Regions from separate parts of the Homo sapiens genome. Here region 1 is linked to region 2. The links come from fine-mapping of genetic effects on gene expression. A gene starts in region 2. The other region holds a variant in brackets. All regions are shown on one strand. Distances are from middle to middle. Region 1 has its middle 80 kb from the start of ERVFC1. Region 2 holds the start of RPA4 (replication protein A4).

The links. PIP is the estimated chance that this variant, and not a neighbour inherited with it, causes the effect. A credible set is the group of variants that fine-mapping cannot tell apart.
Region 1: its variant is the best candidate, but not a certain one, in a credible set for the expression of RPA4 in breast (GTEx, PIP 0.58).

The regions. Positions count from the first base shown.
Region 1 is chrX:97,755,874-97,766,780 of GRCh38, forward strand. No RefSeq gene overlaps it. Among named protein-coding and RNA genes, the nearest start is that of ERVFC1, 80 kb to the right of the region's middle. The variant G/A (reference allele first, on the strand shown) is at 6,038.
Region 2 is chrX:96,878,937-96,889,843 of GRCh38, forward strand. RPA4 (replication protein A4) reads left to right here and starts at 4,972. Exons shown (of 1, transcript NM_013347.4): 1 at 4,972-6,531. The coding sequence starts at 5,375. The coding sequence ends at 6,160. DIAPH2 (diaphanous related formin 2) reads left to right here. Exons shown (of 27, transcript NM_006729.5): 5 at 2,643-2,782.

The DNA.
Region 1 (10,907 bases), 880 kb after region 2:
TTGCATTTCAAATATTATAAACACTGAAGTTGGGTTATGCTTATGATGTCTTAAGGATGTGGATGACAAATACATTTTCTCATAAACCAACCCTGAATGCTTGACAGTGCATTCCTGGGGCCCTGTGTTGAAGGTTTCTGGTGATCAATGAGAAATAATCCATGATCAATTGGCCCACTGAATGTTTTCTACCCCTGATTTAGGGGTTTCAGGTTGTCATCTGAAGGATTTTCTTGCCACTGACATCTATCCAATTTACGAAAGTCTTAATATAAGTTTGATATCTTACAAACTCTGGCAGGTTCATCATTACAAAATCCAAGTAGGATGTATTTTCTGAAAAAAGTGACTTGCCCAAATTGGGGTCATCTTCAGAGAGTATGACTTTAGACCTTATTCTCTACTCTGAAGCTTCCTCTAAGTTTTGGTCCAGAAAACCCCATAAGAGTTACAGAGTTACTAAATGAACTGTACTGTAAAGTCATATGTGTGTGTCAAATGATTTTTATCAGCTTTTGGGTGTGTTACTCTATTAATCTGACTTACTCATTAGAACAATTGAAAATTTAGATGAACTATTTTACATTTGATATCTTTTAACACATGAACACATCCTAAAGCTCAGAGAAAATCACAAAATTTAGTTAAACTTTAGTTATCAAATTATATTATCTCCATTTGCCTCAACCTACATCATTTGGATCAAATAGAATGCAAGTGCCATAACACAGATCCTATGGTGCTATATTTATTTCAGATATTCCCCATAAATTATTTATTGCAAATTTAAAATATTGGGAAAATTTGTAGCGCAGATAGATTATCCAGGAATCCTTGAGTAAATCCTCTTTGCCTGTTAAGAAGTGCTGAGAAAAGCTGATCTAAATGTTTCCTCATATTTTTAAATTTCACTAATGACTTTAATGCAAGTTCCTTGTAGAGAGGCAGTGGTTTCTCTCTGCAAGATTCATGACATGTTTACTGCCTTTTTTTTCTTCCTGATGGACATGTCTACACTGCAAGAGACATAAGATCCTGGGTATTTGAAAATTAAAGAACAGCAGCAAAAGGCCAGATGCCGTAGTTATAAAAGTTGCAAAAGTATCATAAACACCAGGTGTGCCATATAAATGCACAGGTTTTTTTTACACTGCCACACTATTATCATATGGTTCCAACATCTGTTCGTTCCTGTCCGGGCTTCCCACAGACAGTATTTATTAAAATCAAATACGCACTAACTCTCACTTATGTGCCTTGAGCAGGAAGTGCCACAGTGGCCTTATTATGGCATGTAAGTGGGCCAATAAAAATTGATTTTTATCAGTAAAGTTCCAATTATCCTTACAAGCCAATATAGTATCGTCTGTATGCCTTGTACTTGCTAATGACTCTGTGGTTTCTATGACAGTGGGGCCAATACAAAAGTTTTTGTTACTAATTCCAAATAATTGGAGGATGAGAGGAGAGGCCAGTTTAGCTTTGTAAAGAGTCTCTATTAAAAATTATTACTTAAAAAATGTTATTTTCTGATTTTCAACTAGAGGACATATTCGAAATTATAAATGAATGTAAAGAAGTAAATATTTTAATGAAAGTATTAAAAGGCTTCACGAATTTATATCATAAAGTGATACATTAAAAGCAACCAACCTAGCAAAGAGAAAATGACACTGGTCTGGAAATCATGAACCTTATGTTCTGGTTCTTAATCTATCCCTACCACTCTTTAGGTCTTAGTTTTCTCATCTGGGAAAATGAGCAGACTGGAAAATCTGTACTATGTTCCCTTCCTATTTTGATTATTTATGACTCTAATGATAAAAAAAATTCAGTGACAGAAACTTTTTTCTTTAGCTCTTGATTTAATAAATTCTCCCGTTTTTTACAAAAATATTTTCCTGTTGACTTAATAGAAAATATCCACATTGTATCTGAGATATCACAAACACCAAACCAGTAGATTTCAAATTAATGAGTAGTTTGACAGGGTTGTTTTTTGAACAAAAAGAAAATATTAAAAAGAAATGAGAAACAATGTACTACCAAGTGAATGTTAAAAGAATTGGGTATCTGGCCAGGTGCGGTGGCTCATGCCTATAATCCCAGCACTTTGGGAGGGTGAGGAGGGCTGATCACCTGAGGCCAGGAGTTGGAGACCAGCCTGGCCAACATGGCGAAATCCCATCTCTACTAAAAACACAAAAAATTAGCCAGATGGGGTGGTGCGTGCCTGTAATCCCAGCTACTTGGGAGGCTGAGGCAGGAGAATCGCTTAAACCTGGAAGGCCGAGGTTGCAGGGAGTTGAGATTGCGCCACTGCACCCCAGCCTGGGTGACAGAGCAAGACTCTGTCTAAAAAAAAATAAATAAATAAAAACAGAATTGGGTATCTGTTTATTGGGTATCTGTTTAAATAGGAATATTAGAACCCCCACCTACCTCATATCATACATAGAAATAAATTCCAGAAGGATGAAAGATTCTAAATATTTCTTACAAAACCATACAGATATGTGGCGAACACCGAAGAACTGTTAAGATGTCTCTTTGATGAAGGACTTACTGCCCCAGCTGCTGAGAATGCTGTTAGTAGATGGTCTTCAGAAGATTCCGGCCCCTTCAGTGATTGCCTCAGCTGCAGAAAGCTGCCTCTCCCAAGGTCACACCCCTTCCCATGGGAGCAGTCCACATCCAATGACTGATCACATGCAGGAATATATAGGCATGGCCATCTCAGTTCAATTAAAGAGCTGCCCATGAGGTAGGCTGAGGTTGTCATTGGCTTAGCATGGCAGCTCAACTTCTGCCTCTGACTAATTGTTTCCTTTTCCTTCAATTTACAGGTGTTGATGCCAAGAACGCTAATAAAAATCCAGAGGGCTAAAGTTTGTCTCAGATTCTGCATACGGAGGAACTCAAGCTGTGACAACATGTTAGAATAAAATGTAAAAGAATACCTATCTTTTTAAAAAATTTAATTTAATTTAATTTTAAGTTCTGGGATACATGTGCAGGATGTGTAGGTTTGTTGCATAGGTAAACATGTACCATGGTGATTTGCTGCACCTATCAACCCATCACCTAGGTATTAAGACCCACGTACATTAACTATTTATCCTGGTGCTCTTCCTCCCCCCGTACCCCCTGACAGGCCCCAGTGTATGTTGTTCCCCTCCCTGTGTCCATGTGTTCTCATTGTTCAGCTCCCACTTATAAGAAGTGAGAACATGCAGTGTTTGGTTTTCTGTTCCTGTGTTCATTTGCTGAGGATCATGGCTTCCAGCTCCATCCATGTCCCTGCAAAGGACATAATCTCATTCATTTTTATGGCTGCATAGTATTCCATGGTGTATATGCACCACATTTTCTTTATTCTGTCTATCACTGATGGACATTTGGATTGATTCCATGTCTTTGCTATTGTGAATAGTGCTGCAGTGAATATATGTGTGCATGTATCTTTATATTAGAATGATATATATTCCTTTGGGTATACACCCAGTAATGGAATTGCTGGGCCAAATGGTATTTCTGGTTCTAGATCTCTAGATCTAGAGGAATCATCACACTGTCTTCCACAATGGTTGAACAAATTTACATTCCCACCAACAGTGTAAAAGTGTTCCTATTTCTCCACAGCCTCACCAGCATCTGTTGTTTCTTGACTTTTTAATAATTACCATTCTGACTGGCGTGAGGTGGTGTCTTATTGTGGTTTTGGTGTGCATTTCTAATGATCAGTGATGTTGAGCTTTTTTTCTTGTGTTTGTTGACCACATACTTGTCTTCTTTTGAGAAGTGTCTTTTCATGTCCTTTTTCCACTTTTTGATGGGGTTGTTTGTTTTTTTTCTTGGAAATTTGTTTAAGTTTCTTGTAGATTCTGGATATTAGACCTTTGTCTGATGGGTAGACTGCAAAAATTTTCTCCCACTCTGTAGGTTGTCTGCTCACTCTGATGATAGTTTCTTTTGCTGTGAAGAAGCTCTTTAGTTTAATTATATCCCATTTGTCAATTTTTGCTTTTGTTGCAATTACTTTTGATGTTTTTGTCGTGAAATCTTTGCCCATGTCTATGTTCTGAATGGCAAAGAATATCTATCTTTAAAATAATCTTGAGTGTGGGAAAGTGTTCTTAAACAGAATATAAAAGCCAAAATCCATAAAGAAAGAAATGGAAAGATCTGACAAAATGAAAAGTAAAAGCTTCTTTCAGCATTATGAAAGACATCCTAAGCAAAATTAAAAGGCATTTTTTGAGGAAATATTTTTTAACATAAATAATAGACAAAGTTCATATCTGCAATATATAAAGACCTCCTACAAATAAATAAGAAGCCACCGTCTGCCCAAAAAAGGATAATATATATGAGCAAGAAATTTTTTAAAAGAGATGTTGTGGCCAGGCGCAGTGGCTCATGCCTGTAATCCTAGCACTTTGGCAGGCCAAGGTGGACAGATTGCCTGAGCTCAGGAGTTTGAGACCAGACTGGGCAACATGGTGAAACCCCATCTCTACTAAAATACAAAAAAAAAAAAAAAACAAAAAAAAAACCAACAAAAAAAACACAAAATAATTAGCCGGGCGTGGCGGTGTACACCTGTAGTCCCAGCTACTCAGGAGGCTGAGGCAATTGCTTGAACCCGGGAGGCAGAGGTTGCAGTGAGCGGAGATCGTGCCGCTGCACTCCAGCCTGGTGGCAGAGCGAGACTCCTTCTCAAAAAAATAAAAAAAATAAAAAAAAAATAAATGTTGCCAATAATGTAGGAAAGATGTTCTCAGCCTTTCTTGCAATCAAAGAGAGAATTGTCAACATAGAGAATAAGCTAACTTGTAAAATGAAAAAGGTTGATAGTATACACAATTGGCAAGAGGATGGGGGAAATGGGTACTCAAGATATTTGTGGAAATGTAAATGTTATTTTGAAAGGCATTTGGGCAGTAATTTCTCAACATTTTAAATGTGTATGCTCTTTGATCTAGCAATTTTTCTTTTAGGAATATATGCTGCAGAAATATTAACACATGCACACAAAAAGGTGCATGAGAAGGTTTATGCAAGACTTATTTTTAATAGGAAGAATTGGCTATCTATTTGAATAGGAAAATCAGAACCCCTATCTATCTCATATCATACATAAAAATAAATTCCAGAAGGATGAAAGATTCTAAATATAAGAAAACAAAACCACACAGACGTGTGGTGAACACTGAAGGATTGCTTAGATGTCTCTTTGGTGAAGGACTTTCTGTCCCAGTAAGTCCTTTGAAACAAGCATCCCAAAAGAGGGGACAACTGTTTAAAAATATTGTGCATTATTAAATGCTATAGATATGCTAAAAAGAGTGAGCTTGATCTATGTGTATTGTCATGGAAGGATATTTGTGTCGTGATATATTGCTAACAAAAGAGAAGTTGTATAAAAATGCATAACACACATATGCATACATGCATGCATTTTATAAGTGCATAGGGACATTCTGGAAAGAAATGCACACGAGGAGAGGGAAGTTGGTTGTGGTACTGTAGAAAGACAACATTTACTTTTACTCTAGATACCTCTGAATTATTTAATACTTTTACATGGAACTTGCATTACTTTTGTAATTGAAACAATTTAAAAGAGAAGGAATGAAATGCACTAGAGGAACAAACTTGATGCTTTTTCTTTGTTTGGCTTCACCATTATTCATATTACTACTACCACTAGAGACAGTCACTTGGAATTTTCTTTTGTCCAAATGCTGTATAATGTATTCCATCGTATTCCATTTTTCTGAAAATGATCTAATTTACATGATCAAATAGCACTTGATTCTCATTCACACAAATGTCTTGAAAACCAGGTAAGTGAAGTGAGCTACTGACATTTATAGAATATAATCTATATATTAAAATTTCTGGATTCAAGTTCACAAGATTCATTTTATTCCCCGCAAAGGCTGTGGTCACCTAAAAGGGAATGAAATATCTAAGAAGGGAATGAGCTCTGAAAAGTGGAAAGTAGGGTTTCAGAATATGAGAACATCCCTGA[G/A]GCCATTTCTTCACAGAATAAAGTGGAGTCAAAATTTGGAAATGCCGGTGGTGAACTGGAGATGTGCCAACAACTTTGTGCTGTGTAAACCAATTTAAAGAAAGTTAGTGTTGGGAGGTGAGGTTTACACCTTCATCCTTTGCTGGCTGATGCTAAGTTAAATCCTTCACCCTCCACTCCCGCAAAAACCCCTGCTCCTTTGAAGTTCTTGCCCTCTAGCTATGCCACCATCAGTTTCTCTTCAGCTCCCTTACGTATTGACTTTCTCCTCACTATCTTACTTTCAGTGAAGACTTTGATTTCTATTCTTCCCAAATTCTGCTGTCATCTGGAGACTTCGGGGTTTGTTCGGATAATCCTTCCAACCTCAGGGGTTTCCAAATCAGTGTGCACTGGAAACGTGTAAAAGTTTTTCAAAGTGTGTATTTCTGAGTTTTGCCTACTACATCAGAATCTCTCAAGGTGGGGGGGCCTTAGCTTCTGGAATGTCTAAAACCACCACAGATTATCATTCTAATACAGTCAGAACCGCGAATCACTTGCAGCCTTGCTCTTTGTCTGCCTCAACCTGTAACTTTGCATTCAACTTTTCTGGCTACGTAGTAGACATTTTCATTACCGTAGCTGCCCAACAGGTTCTTCCTTCCAGCTGCTCAGATAGAGTCGATTTATCAAGAGAGAGGAATTGCAATAAAGAGTTTAATACATATAGAGCCAGCTAAATGGGAGACTAAAGTTTTATTATTACTCAAATCGTTTCCCCGAATATTCAGAGCCTAGGGTTTTTAAAAAATAGTTCAGTGGGCAGGTGGCTAGGGAATGCGTGTTGCTGATCAATTGGGGATGCAATCATAGTGGTGTGGAAAATGGTCTGGGTGGAACCATCCAGTTACCAGAAATGCAAAAGTCTGAAAAGACATCTCAAAAGGCCAATTTTTTGTTCTACAATAGTGATGTTATTTACAGGAGTAACTGGGGAAGCTGCAAATCTTCTGACCTCTGGAATAATGGCTGGTAATTGTTTAACTATGCCTACATCTTATCAGAATCCAGGGCCCTCTCATTCTCCTAACCTGGTGGCCTTTCATTAGTTTTACAAAGGCAGGTTAGCTCTTTGGGAAGGGCTACTATCATTTAAACTATAAACTACATTTCTCCTAAAGTTAGCTAGTCTCATGACAAGGAGTGACCAAGGGCAGTTTGGAGGTTAAAGGCAAGATGGAGTTGGTTAGACAGTAAAAGATCTCTTTTACTGTCAACAGTTCTCTCATTGTTATAATTTTTGCAAAGGCAGTTTCATTTCTTGAAACCTCACCACCTATGAAATCTTAAACTCCAAGAATCCATTCTCTGGTTATGACCTCAAGTTTTCCAACTCACTCTCCTCAATTCTACTATAGCTAGTCTTCACTGTAGTGAGATATCCACTACCTTGAACAGCTCCAGTTCTTGTAGACTTTTTGTCCCTTACTGGCTTCTCAAAGATCATGTAATTTTCCCTTCTGCTGTACCAGTCCAGCATAACTCCAACCCTCAGGTATACAAAATTATCTTTACTCTCTGCCTTTGCCCAGTCTCATTTATTCTCTACATTGCAGGCTGAGTAACCTTTTTAAATGCAAATTTAACCACAGGAACTTCCCCCACCCCTCCAAATTGCCTTGCTTAATCCTTTAAATGGCTCCCCATAGTTCTTAGGATAAAGTCCCAATTCCACAGTATGCCATATAAAATCAGCAATAATTTTTGCCCTGTGTGCATTTGTTTCTGGGCTCAGTTCCTACCTCTCTCTATTTCAAAATCTATGCTTCATCTACACTGAGATGCTAGTACCTTCCCCCACACTCATCATGATGTTTCTTATTTATGAGCATGTCCTCTCTGTCTGGAATGCCCTCAGCCCTCTTTGCAAGCCTAGCTCCTATTTATCCTTTAAAGACTCCTCTCAGGAGGCATCTCCTCCCTGATGAAATCTCAGAGGTGACTTAGTTTTTAAAACTCAAATTCTCTAGGCACTTTATATTTGGTACCTAGACCCAGGGTGATATTAAAATATTGAGCAATCAGATACCAGTGCATGCTGGTTGTGCATCAAACCTGCTCAGGCAATAAAATACTGTAATATTTAAAGAGTCTCTCTCCTTTCCTGTCTCCTCTTTCCCTCATTGGTTCCACTTATCAGCAAAACCCTGGGCAACTGAGCTGGGGCAGAATCAGCAGCTGAAACTTTCATTGTGTACCAATAAAAATGTCATTAGAAACCTTGAGGCTTAACTTTTTCCATCCTCATGCGTCATTGCTAAGGGATTCCTTCAGACCACTTCTATATTTCTGCCTGCTCCACCCTGGTAATCAGTGCCTTACATACAATGGTAGGCTCTGGGTTAGTAATAATATCTTTTCAAGAAAGGTGACTGGTAAGAATTTCTCAGGGACACACCTAAATAAACCAAAACCCAAGGTCAATATATTACAGTGACAAAAAGGAGATTTGTTGGATTGAAAGAAAACAATCCCAAGTTAGAGATGTGTTTCACTTTCTCTTTTTTGATATGAATAGTTTCTATATATAGTTGTCACACCTATGAAGAATGTAATTTTTAGAGGACCAGGCCATATTTATCTATTTGCCATGTTTAAGATAGTGCTAGAGATATAATAGTTATTCAATAAATATTTGTTGACTGACTCAATGAATGAAAGGATGGATGTACCATTCTTTAGTAGAGATGAGCAATTATTACTTGGTAAAAGAAAGCAGAAACTAAGAAGGATGTTATACTTCTACTAAGAATACTTCTACTAAGAAAACTACAACAGTTGGAGGGAGCAATTTAAAGTTGAGCTGAAATTCTTTAGTATTGTTATCTCAAGTGCCACAATAAGGAATTCATTCTTTTGTACTGTGAAAACTCACTTGTGTGATACCTAGCATGTAATGCCAAACCATTTGCATGCTGTTCAAAGAATTGTTCTGCATATAGATTGGTTTGTGTACCCATATGTATAAAAATTCAATTTAAAGGAGCAGCAGAATTAGTCAATGAGATTGAAGTTTCTCTTCAACATTCACTGTAGACGAAAGAGGTGCCCATGCTTATTTGTATGTTTAAGGAGGGAAGCTGGAGGAGGTATCTGATGCATGTCTTGCAAAGAATAAACAATATTAACATTTTTCCTGTGTATCATTGTTTTCTCTCTTGCTTGCTCTCTTTACTGCAGATGTTGTGGCTATTTCTTGATGGTTTTCAGGCTCCAGTTCATTAAGATTACTGCAATTGGTGCCTCTGCTGAGGATTTCACTACTGTCTTTCACCAGCAGGTACACAGCAACATGAATATGCTTCTAAATCACATTTATGCTTACTTCAAAATTATAACAGCTGGATTATCTGACTCTGTACTGTCGCTCTTGTCAAATAAATAAATTAACCCCTAAATCTCTTCTAGAGCAAAGCCAAAATCAGTGTTCCTGTAAACTTTCCAAAGTTAAAATACAGGGGTTTTTCTCCTGTATTGTTTTAAGCAGGGTAAAAATACTGAATTTAAAATATTGGAAAAATATTAGATAGACTCAACCATGAAATAAAACTGTTTTATATTTCCCCATAGCTATCTTTTCACATGCAGGGTAGGTCTCTCTTCATTGATTGGTTTCCTTTTATTACATAGTGTTCTGGGAGAAGCAAAGTAATCTTGAGCACCATAAGTGTAACCACCCAAGGGGTTCACCTTGCCCGCTGCCTAGACAGAGCCAATTCATCAAGACAAGGGAATTGCAGTCAAGAAAGAGTAATTCACGCAGAGCCAGCTGTGTGGGAGATCGGAGTTTTATTATTACTCAAATCAGTCTCCCCGAGTATTGGGGGAGCAGAGTTTTTAAGGATAACTTGGTGGGTGGGGGGAAGCCAGTGAGTCAGGAGTGCTGATTGGTCAGAGATGAAATCATAGGGAGTCGGAGCTGTCTTCTTGCCTCTGAGTCAGTTCCTGGGTGGGGCCATAAGATCAGATGAGCCAGTTCATTGATCTGGGTGGTGCCAGCTGATCCATCAAGTGCAGGGTCTGCACAATTTCTCAAGCAGTGATCTTAGGAGCAGTTTAGGGAGGGTCAGAATCTTGTAGCCTCCAGCTGCATGACTTCTAAACCATCATTTCTAATCTTGTGGTTACTGTTAGTCCTACAAAGGCAACCTAGTCCCAGGCAGGAAGGAGGTCTGCTTTGGGAAAGGGCTGTTACCGTCTTTGTTTAAACTAAGTTTCTCCCAAAGTTAGTTCAGACTACGCCCAGGAATGAACAAGGCCAGCTTGGAGGCTAGAAGCAAGATGGAGTCAGTTAAGTTAGAACACTTTCACTGTCTCAGTCATAATTTTGCAAAGGCGATTTCATAAGGGTCAAAGAAACTGTGAACTTGTGGATTAAACTTGCAAAAATGCTTTCTTGATGAGGACTGTTTGTCTTTCTTGTCTTCTGATATATATCAATTTGCAAATTAAAATAGAATCTTTAAGGCCTCTCTGATTTCTGTTTGAATTTGAAATGGGATACAGCTCCCAGATTCCTTTATCTGACATTCTAACTCATAGGGGTACTGCTCAAAGCTGCCAGAACATGTTTTTCATTCCGTAAGTGTCAACTGAGCCCTTAATCCTCTTCAAGTTGGTTAAATAAGTTAGTGCGGGAAGTTGTGTCATGAGAAGGAATCCCACAGACTTGGAACTAAAAAGATTTAGGGGGAATTAGTTAGGTCCTCTTGAGATAAGGCAGGGTTGCTTTATCTAACTGGTCACTCCTTTTACATGACTGATAGAGGATGAAAAAAATGTCTCTGAACTTCTCAATCTAGATTTATTTTTGCAGCTTAACTCAGCC
Region 2 (10,907 bases):
TTCAGCATGTTGAAACTCATCACTCATCTACCCTTTTGTTTATTCTCTATCCATCCATCCACCCAACCATCCATCCATTCATTCATTCAGGAAATATGTATTGAATGCTTACTTAAGCACTGTCTTAAGATCTGAGGATATAGTGGTGAACAAGGCAGGCAAGAATCCTGTCATAAGAGCTTATGTTTTAGCGCAGAAGACAGTAAACAACTAAATTACAAAAATAAATTTTCATAGAGGTAATACTGTAAATGATATTTAAAATGGTGTTGCGATGATAACTAGAATGTGGGGTGGGGAGAAGACTATGGAGCTGAGATTAAAATGATGGGAGCCAGCAATGGAGAGGTTGGGATAAGGGTCTTCAAGGCAGAGAAAACTGCAAAATACAAAGGTCACGCAACAGGGTTAAATTCCATATACAATCCTCTAGGGGAAGATTAGTGGTGCCTTTTTATATATTAATTTAGAAATAACTTTGAGGATTATATGAAAGCGGTATGTGACTACAGACTTGAAAATTTTAATTCGTTTTACTAGTAGTTTTCAGACTGGCACATGTAGTAAATAGATCCCTTGTTACTGATGAACTTTGTGTTGTTGTAGAAAGTGAGTTGGCCGAGCAAAAATAAAACTATAATTTTGAATTTGCAAAATTATGCTTTAAATATTTACTTGCTATTATTCCTTGTGAAATAATAGATGGATAAGGAAGTTACAGGAATATGGACATGATCTCTCGGTGATGGTTTTACTTACTGTGCCATTTAGGTGATGATGATTCATCCAGTATACTTTTTTATTTGTGGAGGAGACGGAGTCTTGCTCTGTGGCTCAGGCTGGAGTGCTGTGGCGGGATCTCAGCTCACTGCAACCTCCACCTCCCGGGTTCAAGCTATTCTCGTGTCTTAGCCTCACGAGTTGCTGGGATTACAGGCATGTGCCTCCATGCCAGCTAATTTTTGTATTTTTAGTAGAGATGGAGTTTCACCACATTGGCCAGGCTGATTTCGAACCCCTGACCTCAAGTGTTCCACCCGCCTCAGCCTCCCAAAGTGCTGGGATTCCAGGCATGAGCCACCGTCCCCGGCCCATCCAGTATATTTTTAACGTCTACTGTGTCTCATAACGAAGCAAGAAATACCAAGTCAGTGGCCATTATACAAAATATGGGAGCTCAAAGTATGAAATCGTATTCCTTGTTCTGCAGTTATTATGGAGAAGTTCAATAATAACACACTTTTATTGAAGCTCACTAAATTCATGACCGGTGTTAGTTATGTGGCATAGATGGAGTTCCCAATGTAGAAGTGAGACAGACACAAATAATGACCTCTACCACAATATTTTAAGTGCTATAATAATTATAATATTGCCACAGCGCTAAGGGAATAGAGTTCCCCTATATGTTATAAGCCTTTATCAGACTTTAAAAATTTAGCATCTAATGGGATTTTTGAAATTCAGAAATTAAGAATGATTAACACTTTCTACATTGAGGAGGCATTCTCAATAAAAACCCAAATAGTGTGAAATCATAGGGAACTCATTTCTCATTATTAACATTTTTTTAAATGTCATATCCTCTAATGATAATACCTCTACCCAATGGGGAAAAATTCCTTTCCTTATGATCTCCTTATAATATTATATTTCCTATGATAGTATATCCTTATGATGTTATTTTATAGTAAGTATCCTTAGATGCTTAGCAGAAACTGAGTGTAATTTTTATGAACCTGTAAAATGGGACTCAAGCTTGGAGTCTTAATTCAGGGATATACATTTACAGTATAGGAAAGGGGCAATTATGATTAGGTACGTCTAGAATGTGAAACTATCAGTTGTTAGTATAGTGAATGTGTTGACAATATTTTCCTCCCAGCCTTTTCCCTGAACTACTTATATAGTTATAGCAAGATGATGAAGTTAAGGAGCTGTGATGAGATGAGTTCTAGAAACAACTCCATCTATATTGAAAGTTAAGTTAAAAACTAGTCACTATCAGATAAATGTATTTAATGACTTTTTAAGATTAATCTACAACCTGAGAGTACCAGAAAGGAATAATTGGGAACTGGTGAATGCTTTCAACTGATTTGATTAATTAACATGCTAATTGGAGACTATATTGTTTTACATTTTAATAACTGTTTTCACTTATTTTTTTTAGAAAGGCTGATACTCTGATATCTTTCAATAGATTTGGGTTATGTATAATGGTATATATTAAATTTTATTTGCTGGATTTTGTGGAATTGAATATACATATCTTAACTAGGAAAATTAATAAGATGATTTTTGAATGCTTATCCTCTGGGTTAAGGAGGACTAGCTAATATTAATTCTAATGCCTGAATTGTAAATTTAAGCACCCCTGTCAATGACACTTTATGTAATTCAAGTTCATATTCTATTCAGGTCATGAGCACCAGCACTGTAATTTTTTTTTTAAATGAGGTTGAGGAAAATGTTGAGATATATACAACACAATTTTACTATATCAATTCTGTGATCAAGAATTTTTAAGTGTGTAGCACTCTGCACACATTTTTATATAACAAAATAAATATTCTATGCATTATTTTACTTAAATTTTTTTTGAAACATTGTCTAAAATGGTCTCTTTGTTTATTTTATAGGGTGGGCTGAAAAACAGCAAACATGAATGCACCCTGTCTTCACAAGAATATGTTCATGAATTACGATCGGGTATATCAGATGAGAAACTTCTTAATTGCCTAGAATCCCTCAGGGTTTCTTTAACCAGCAATCCGGTCAGGTAAGTCGTTCTTATCATTTCGGTATGATTCATACAATTTGTAGTGCATATAATTGTTTGGGAATATAATAAGTTTTGTTATTTAAACCTCAAGATTTCCTGACTAAAAATCTGATGTTAATAAAACAGCAGCATCTGATTGTGAAGTCGTAAACTTTTAAAAATATATTTAGTTAGTTGGATCTCTAGTAATGTACAATTTTAAGAATACAAATGTTAACATAGAGCCAGAAGTTAAATATCCACATTTACATGGAAATCTATTTGTGGGATCAGATAATTATTATATATTTATTTATAAAGCAAATTAAGTATATTTGCTCCATGATTTTATTCTTTTTTTTTTTTGTGAGACAGAGTCTTGCTCTGTTGCCCAGGCTGGAGTGCAGTGGCACGATCTTGGCTCACTGCAACCTCTGCCTCCCAGGTTCAAGCAATTCTTCTACCTCAGCCTCCTGAGTAGCTGGGACTACAGGCACGCACCATCATGCCTGGCTGATGTTTGTATTTTTAGTAGGGAAGGGGTTTCACCATATTGGCCAGGCTGGTCTCGAACTCTTGATCTCGTGATCCACCTGCCTTGGTCTTCTAAAGTGCTGGGATTACAGGTGTGAGCCACCGCGCCCGGCCGATTTTATTCTTTTAAAACTTGAAAGGTATATATAACTTTATGTTCTTCTATAAGTTTTAGATATACTCTTCACATATTTCTGTAATTTTGAGATAGCAAAAAGTGAATTATTTTAACCAGTAAAAGAAGTGAGAGCATTAATAAACTTCTCAAAACTCTACTAATTTAGGCTATTAACTAACTACAAAGGATTGTTATTAGGTTACTTGCCAATGGTGGATTCCAGTAACTGTGGTTCCTTTATTAAGCCTTTAAATCAATAACACCCAAAATAAAATGTTTTATAAAGAAAAATAAAATTTCAATAAAATATCAAAACATTCTTGGCCGGGCGTGGGGGCTCACACCTATAATCCCTGCACTTCAGGGGGCTGAGGCAAGTGGATCGCTTGAGTCCAGGAGTTCGAGACCAGCCTGGCCAACATGGTGAAACCCCGTCTCTACCAAAAATACAAAAAAGTCAGCCAGGTGTGGTGATGTGCGCCTGTGGTCCCAGGTATTCACGAGGCTGAGGTGGGAGGATCACCTCAGCCCGGGAGGTGGAGGTTGCAGTGAGCCCATATCCCGCCACTGCACTCCAACCTGGGAGACAGAGCGAGACCCTGTCTCCAAAAAAAAAAAAAAAAAAAAAAAACAAAAAAACAAAAATCCGGGATCTATTTATGTAACTACTAGAATCTTAAGTTCAGAATTTACTCCATAAGAGTATATAAAAAACTTACTGTGATTTTATCCATGTTTTTCCTAATATATAATAGGTCTAAGTCTTGTACTTTTCTGTCCTGTCCACAGAGCCTTGAAAATAATTTAGAGCTCAGTCATTCAGTTTGGATTTATGTATAAATTGAAATATATTAATTACTTATTTATAGTGCACTTGGCAAAATGCCCAGAAAATTACAATTTTAAAACAACAAAAAATTTTTTAAAAGCCAGTGTTAAGATGTGACTTATCTTAGAGTATGATAATCGTTGAAAGACGATTGTCTTGCCATTTCTTCCAAAATGCTCCTAGGTTTTTTGTTTTTTGTTTTTTGTTTTTTTTTTTGAGACGGAGTTTTGTTCTTGTCACCGAGGCTGGAGTGCAGTGGTGCTGTCTCGGTTCACTGCAACCTCTGCCTCCTGGGTTCAAGCGATTCTCCTGCCTCAGCCTCCCGAGTAGCTGGGATTACAAGCCTGCACCACCACGCCTGGCTAATTTTAGTATTTTTAGTAGAGACGGGATTTCACCACGTTGGCAGGCTAGTCTCGAACTCCTGACCTCAAGTAATCAACCTGCCTCAGCCTCCCAAAGTTCTGGGATTACAGGCGTGAGCCACTGCGCCCGGCCTGATGCTCCTAGTTTTAATGGTTTGAATGAACAGGGGACGTGAGTTCTTGAGAACAGTAACTACGGTGGTGCATTTTTCCCCCCTGCACGTAACGTACAGCACTCTACCGTTTTGCCAAGCACTTTGTGCTCCTAAAATTTCTGTTGCATTGTTGTTTGAATGAATGAATAAATGAGTCTTTTAAAAGTAATTGTAGAAGTTGCAGCATTAAGAAATAAAGAGGGGGGCTAGTAAAAATGCATTTTTATAGAGATGTTGGGAAAGGCTTGCTTGAAATTACACGTGGGACTTTTAATAGATAGGCGCTTTGACCAGCTAAGCAACAGGGCTCCCCTCGTGTGGGACTTTTAGAATGTAGCAACCACTGACACACAGGGAAGGATTATGCGATCAGGTGAGAAGGTGGCCGACCCTGACTGGCTGGAAGCAGATGCATTCTGGTAGTTGATTGGTCCACAGGTAGCGTGACGCTTGTCACGTCCTCAGCCTCCCAGCATTCAATCGTAGCCTTTCGGACAGCTCGAAGCCTTCTGTGGAGAGCTCGAAGCCTTCTGTGGAGAACTCAAAGCCGTCCGTGGAGCCCCAGACGAGCCAAAGCCCACCTTCTCCTCAGCCTGAGCTGTCTTGAAGATGAGTAAGAGTGGGTTTGGGAGCTATGGCAGCATTTCTGCTGCTGATGGAGCGAGTGGAGGCAGTGACCAACTGTGTGAGAGAGATGCAACTCCTGCTATTAAGACCCAAAGACCTAAGGTCCGAATTCAGGACGTTGTACCGTGTAATGTGAACCAGCTTCTCAGCTCTACTGTGTTTGACCCTGTGTTCAAGGTTAGGGGAATTATAGTTTCCCAGGTCTCCATCGTGGGGGTAATCAGAGGGGCAGAGAAGGCTTCAAATCACATTTGTTACAAAATTGATGATATGACCGCGAAACCAATCGAGGCCCGACAGTGGTTTGGTAGAGAGAAAGTCAAGCAGGTGACTCCATTGTCAGTCGGAGTATATGTCAAAGTGTTTGGTATCCTCAAATGTCCCACGGGAACAAAGAGCCTTGAGGTATTGAAAATTCATGTCCTAGAGGACATGAACGAGTTCACCGTGCATATTCTGGAAACGGTCAATGCACACATGATGCTGGATAAAGCCCGTCGTGATACCACTGTAGAAAGTGTGCCTGTGTCTCCATCAGAAGTGAATGATGCTGGGGATAACGATGAGAGTCACCGCAATTTCATCCAGGACGAAGTGCTGCGTTTGATTCATGAGTGTCCTCATCAGGAAGGGAAGAGCATCCATGAGCTCCGGGCTCAGCTCTGCGACCTTAGCGTCAAGGCCATCAAGGAAGCGATTGATTATCTGACCGTTGAGGGCCACATCTATCCCACTGTGGATCGGGAGCATTTTAAGTCTGCTGATTGAGGCAGGGAAAACATCCTTTCATTTTTCGAAGACCCTTGCATCCAGCTGTGAGTAATTTTGACCTGTTGACTTTTTAGGAAGTAGGACTAAAAAAAAAAATCTCAAGTGGCATTCTTTGTCAACTCGCTGCTTTTCTAACTGCTTTGAACTTTTCGGATTTTCTGTATTTGAAGCTCAGAGAGAGACGGTGATGGATAAATTGACAACTCTGTAGGATTTACTAGCAAGCTAATGGAAACATGATTTTCGGGGAAGAAAAACTACAGAAAATGTAGAAATTTATTATTTAATTGTGTTGGAGCTTCTTTTTCCAAAAGAAAAACTAGTTGCAGTCAGGGAGCCAGCGAAAAGACAAAAAAAAAAAAAAAAAAAAAAAAAGTCTTGCTTGTTTTTATGTTAGACTTATTTTCCGTGTTTGGATTTAGCTTATTATAATGATACTGTTATCTCTTGCTCAATATAGTATTTAGTATTTGATTAATTCAAATGAGCTGAAGATACTAATTTGTGAATTCTAATGCTCAGTTCAAACATTTATGTGTGATTTGCTCTTATTACTATGAATTTATGTTTTCTTAAAATAAGATTATACTGTGTTTAAATAAACCATTTTTGCCAGGTTATCTTTGAAATTTTTTAAAATGTGGTGAAGTTCAATGATTATTTCATATATGATGTGGTATTTGGATGAAATTACAATTTATTGTAGTTGTATGGTAAATGGATGCCAGAGTTTCTGTAAGTTTGATGTGCTGGTGTATTATTTATTTTACTAAATGCTCTGTTTTATGTATAAAAAGGTAATTTTTAGGACGTTAGGGAAACAGCTCATAGGAATATGAAACTTACTGAGTTTAACACAAATTTATTCAAATGTTTTATTAAAGTAGTTTACAAAATCTTAACTTTCCTGTGTGATTTTTTTTTCTAAGTACATTTGAAAAAGCCTTTTTGTTTTATATCCTTGAGGATTAATAGTTTCACTTATCCAGAATTTTTTCTTTTCTATATATAAAATACCCAGAACATATGCTATAGCCTAGTTCTAACAATACATTTTAGTGTAGATTATATAAATTATGTGAGACTTTTAAATAATTGACCATTAACGAAAGCCCTCAGTTACCTATACACTAAAGATGGTGTCTTTCAAGATGCTAATTTTTTTACATTAGAGGAAATAAAAAACATATACTTTTTAATGAATATATGTTATATTTTATATATGTATATTCATATATAATATACAAATAGAAGAACATTATTTGTCAAATTGAATCATGAAAACTGCAACAAAAAAAAAATCTCTTAAATGGAACATTGCCAGTACTCCGTACTTTCAGGAAAACTTTCAGAAAATGGCCTGTGTCAGTGGCCATTAGAAAAACCACTAATTCTTGCTTAAGCTTTGTGATGCATATTTTTCTTCCCCTTGAAAGTAAAGAAATTGTAAATGGCACTCTTGAAAAGCACAGATGAATAACATACTATAAACCTGTTACTTAAATTATCAGACATTTTGAAAATTCTGGTCTTCATAAACCTAAAATATTCGGAACCACTTTTTGTTGAAAAAGGTTACCTGTCCTAGGGAAAATCATACTGGGGGAGAGGCAACAAGGGGCATATATACTTGGAATTGTGGAGCTGAAAGAGTCTAGCAGATACAATATTCTTTTGTGACATTAAAATCTGATATTTATGAGTATAATTATAGGTCACTCCCATAATTGCTTGAGCTGATTCAGCTGGCCAGTGGATGCGTAGCCACTTGTTTTTCCTATACTAGGAGCATGCGGAGGGGGAAAAAAACTCTTTTTTTTTTGTTTGGGAGGCCAAACTGCTTTTGTCCCTGCAAACTGATACACTGAGATATGTACACCTGAATTTAAGGCAGAAGACCAACCTCTCTCCCATCCTGTGAGGGGAAATGTCCTCTATCTGTGTTCGTTGGGGTTTTTTTAGGCTTTTAAAATTACTCCTCCCAACGCTTATTCTTCTGAATGGAATCGTGTGCTTTAGTGGATTCTGCTGCAGGTAAGAGATAGCAGTGGAAAAATAGTAAGTAGGTCTAGATATAATGTCAGTGGAAATAAAACACTTTTAGGCAGAAAATCACTGGATTGTTTTATACATGTATATTTAGTCCATGTTAAAGGTAGCAGATTTTTAAAGTTCATTTTGAACACCCACCTGGCATGCATACTTTTTCAATTTTGTTTAGACTGGGAATGACTTGGCTAATATCCCCTTTCTCCAAGGTCCTGCCCTGATAGTTAGCCACACCTTTTGAGGATAAGATACAAATCCTGGGGACATACTATTGACTATTTTGGGCAGGGACATTTAAGCCTGAGGAACCTGAAAAACATAATTGATGATTATAATCCACCCAAGGTTTTTTCCTATGGCTCACAGGCTTACGAAATGTATGTATTTATATTGAGGTTGATTCTAAATTAACTATGAATAAATATATTTGAAAGTGTTTTCAAGGCCAATATAATAATCTTACTATGGTCATAATTATTAGTGATCATTTTGTTACTTTTACCTACTAAATTTAGTAATATTTGGAGTAGAAGCTGAAAAACATAAGTTCTTATATTTTTTCAATTTCTGTTTACTTTTTATAACAGCAATTTAAAAAATGTAACTAGCAAGAATTATGTTTGTTCCTGAAACCTTTATTGAGTTCCTACTATATGCATTTAAGTGTTAACTTTAATTTTGATAAGCTTAAATTTTATTGACTTCTGAAATGCTTATTAAAGATAGTAATAGTTAACATTTTAACATTTATTTAGTATTTATTATCTCCCAAGTACTGTTCTAAGAGTAGGAGTTGTGTGTATGTGTTGTGCGTGTGTGTATGTGTGTGTGTGTATGTGTGTGTGTGTATGTGTATGTATGATCCCTGTGATGCGTAGATTTACGTTTTCAGCTCAGACCTCTCTGTTTCTCTCTCTCTTTTTTTTTTTGAGACAGAGTCTTGCTCTTGTGGCCCAGGCTGGAGTGCAATGTCACAATCTCGGCTCACTGCAACCTCTGCCTCCCAGGTTCAAGTGATTCTCCTGCCTCAGCCTCCTGACTAGCTGGGATTACAGGTGCCCGCCACCATGCCTGGCTAATTTTTATATTTTTAGTAAAGACGGGGTTTCGCCATGTTGGCCAGGCTGGTCTCAAACTCCTGACCTCGTGATCCGCCTGCCTCGGCCTCCCAGAGTGCTGGGATTACAAGTGTGAGCCACCCACCTGGCCAGACCTCTCTTTTGAAATTGAGACTCCATCTCCAAATGTCTTATTGGATGACATATAGGCATTTTTAATACATTAAAAAATAATGAAAAATTATGTGTGATATGTGTTTTTTATATATATATATAACACAGATATATATCTCTATATATGTACACACAGATACATATATCTATATATATACATACAGATATATATATCTATATATATACACAGATATATATATCTATATATATACAGATATATATATCTATATATATCTATATATATACACAGATATATATATCTATATATATATTACCATGTATATACAGATATATATATATCTGTGTATATATTAGTATGTATATGGCATTTACTACCCCTGTGCAATGTTTTAAGACCTTTAAATGTACATATACAATCAGGATAACAGTATTGTTCGTATTTTGTAGATGAACTTGAGGCTCAGAGAGGTTAAGTAATTTGCGCCATATTAAAGTTGCATGCCCAGCAAGTGTCAGTGTTAAGATTTAAACCCAGGCTTTGTATCTCTCGAGAGCCTAGGCCTTTAACAACTGGTTTGTACAGTGTCACAATAAGGAAAGTCTATTAAAATAGTATTCTTTCACTGTTGTTAGTATTCTTTCACTGTCATCACATACTGAATATTTTGACTTTCTTTCATTAATATTTGTCTGATTTAAATGAAAAAGAAACTATGAAAACTTTCAGCAAATGTGTAGAAGATAATATAAAAACACCTTTGTACTCATCTATCAGCTTAAGAGACAAAACATTATTTTTTGCTGTGGTAGAGAACTTAGTTGAATAACTTGGGAGTTTTTTTATGATATCGTAATACCATTTGGGCCTATATTTTCATTGATTTAAAAGATCGTCTGAAATTCTACATTTTCTCTAAATCTATGCATGTAGTTTTTGCAATATAATATCTTAAGAATATATATCAGTGTATTGAAAAGCCTATTTTTTTTTCTGATCACATAGCTGTGTGTAAATTGGGACTTCTTTGCCCTATCCATTGTGGATGATACTTCTAGTAATTCTAACACCATCTCTATGATATTTATTCCAATTTGCCATCATGTGATAAATTACGAAAACAATTTTTTAACATTAAGAGTTAATTTCCTTTGGTAATACCTTAAATTGGAGAAGTTCAATAAATAGCACTTAATATTATGTGGTTTGTTTTTACATATCACATGGATAATCCTACAAAGGAATAACAAAACTAAATTCCCCTTGTCCATATGGGGCTTATATATATGGAGCTTACATTCCAGTACAGGAATTCAGACAATTTTTTTAAAGGTGTACATCAAATATCAGGTTGTAATATGAGCTGAGGAGGAGATGTTGCTATTTTATATTAGATGATCAGTGAAAGCCTCCCTGACTTTAATGACATTTGCACAGAGGTCTAAAGGAAGTATGGCAGTGACCTATGTTCACTGGAGGAGTAATGTTGTTAGAAACGGAAAAC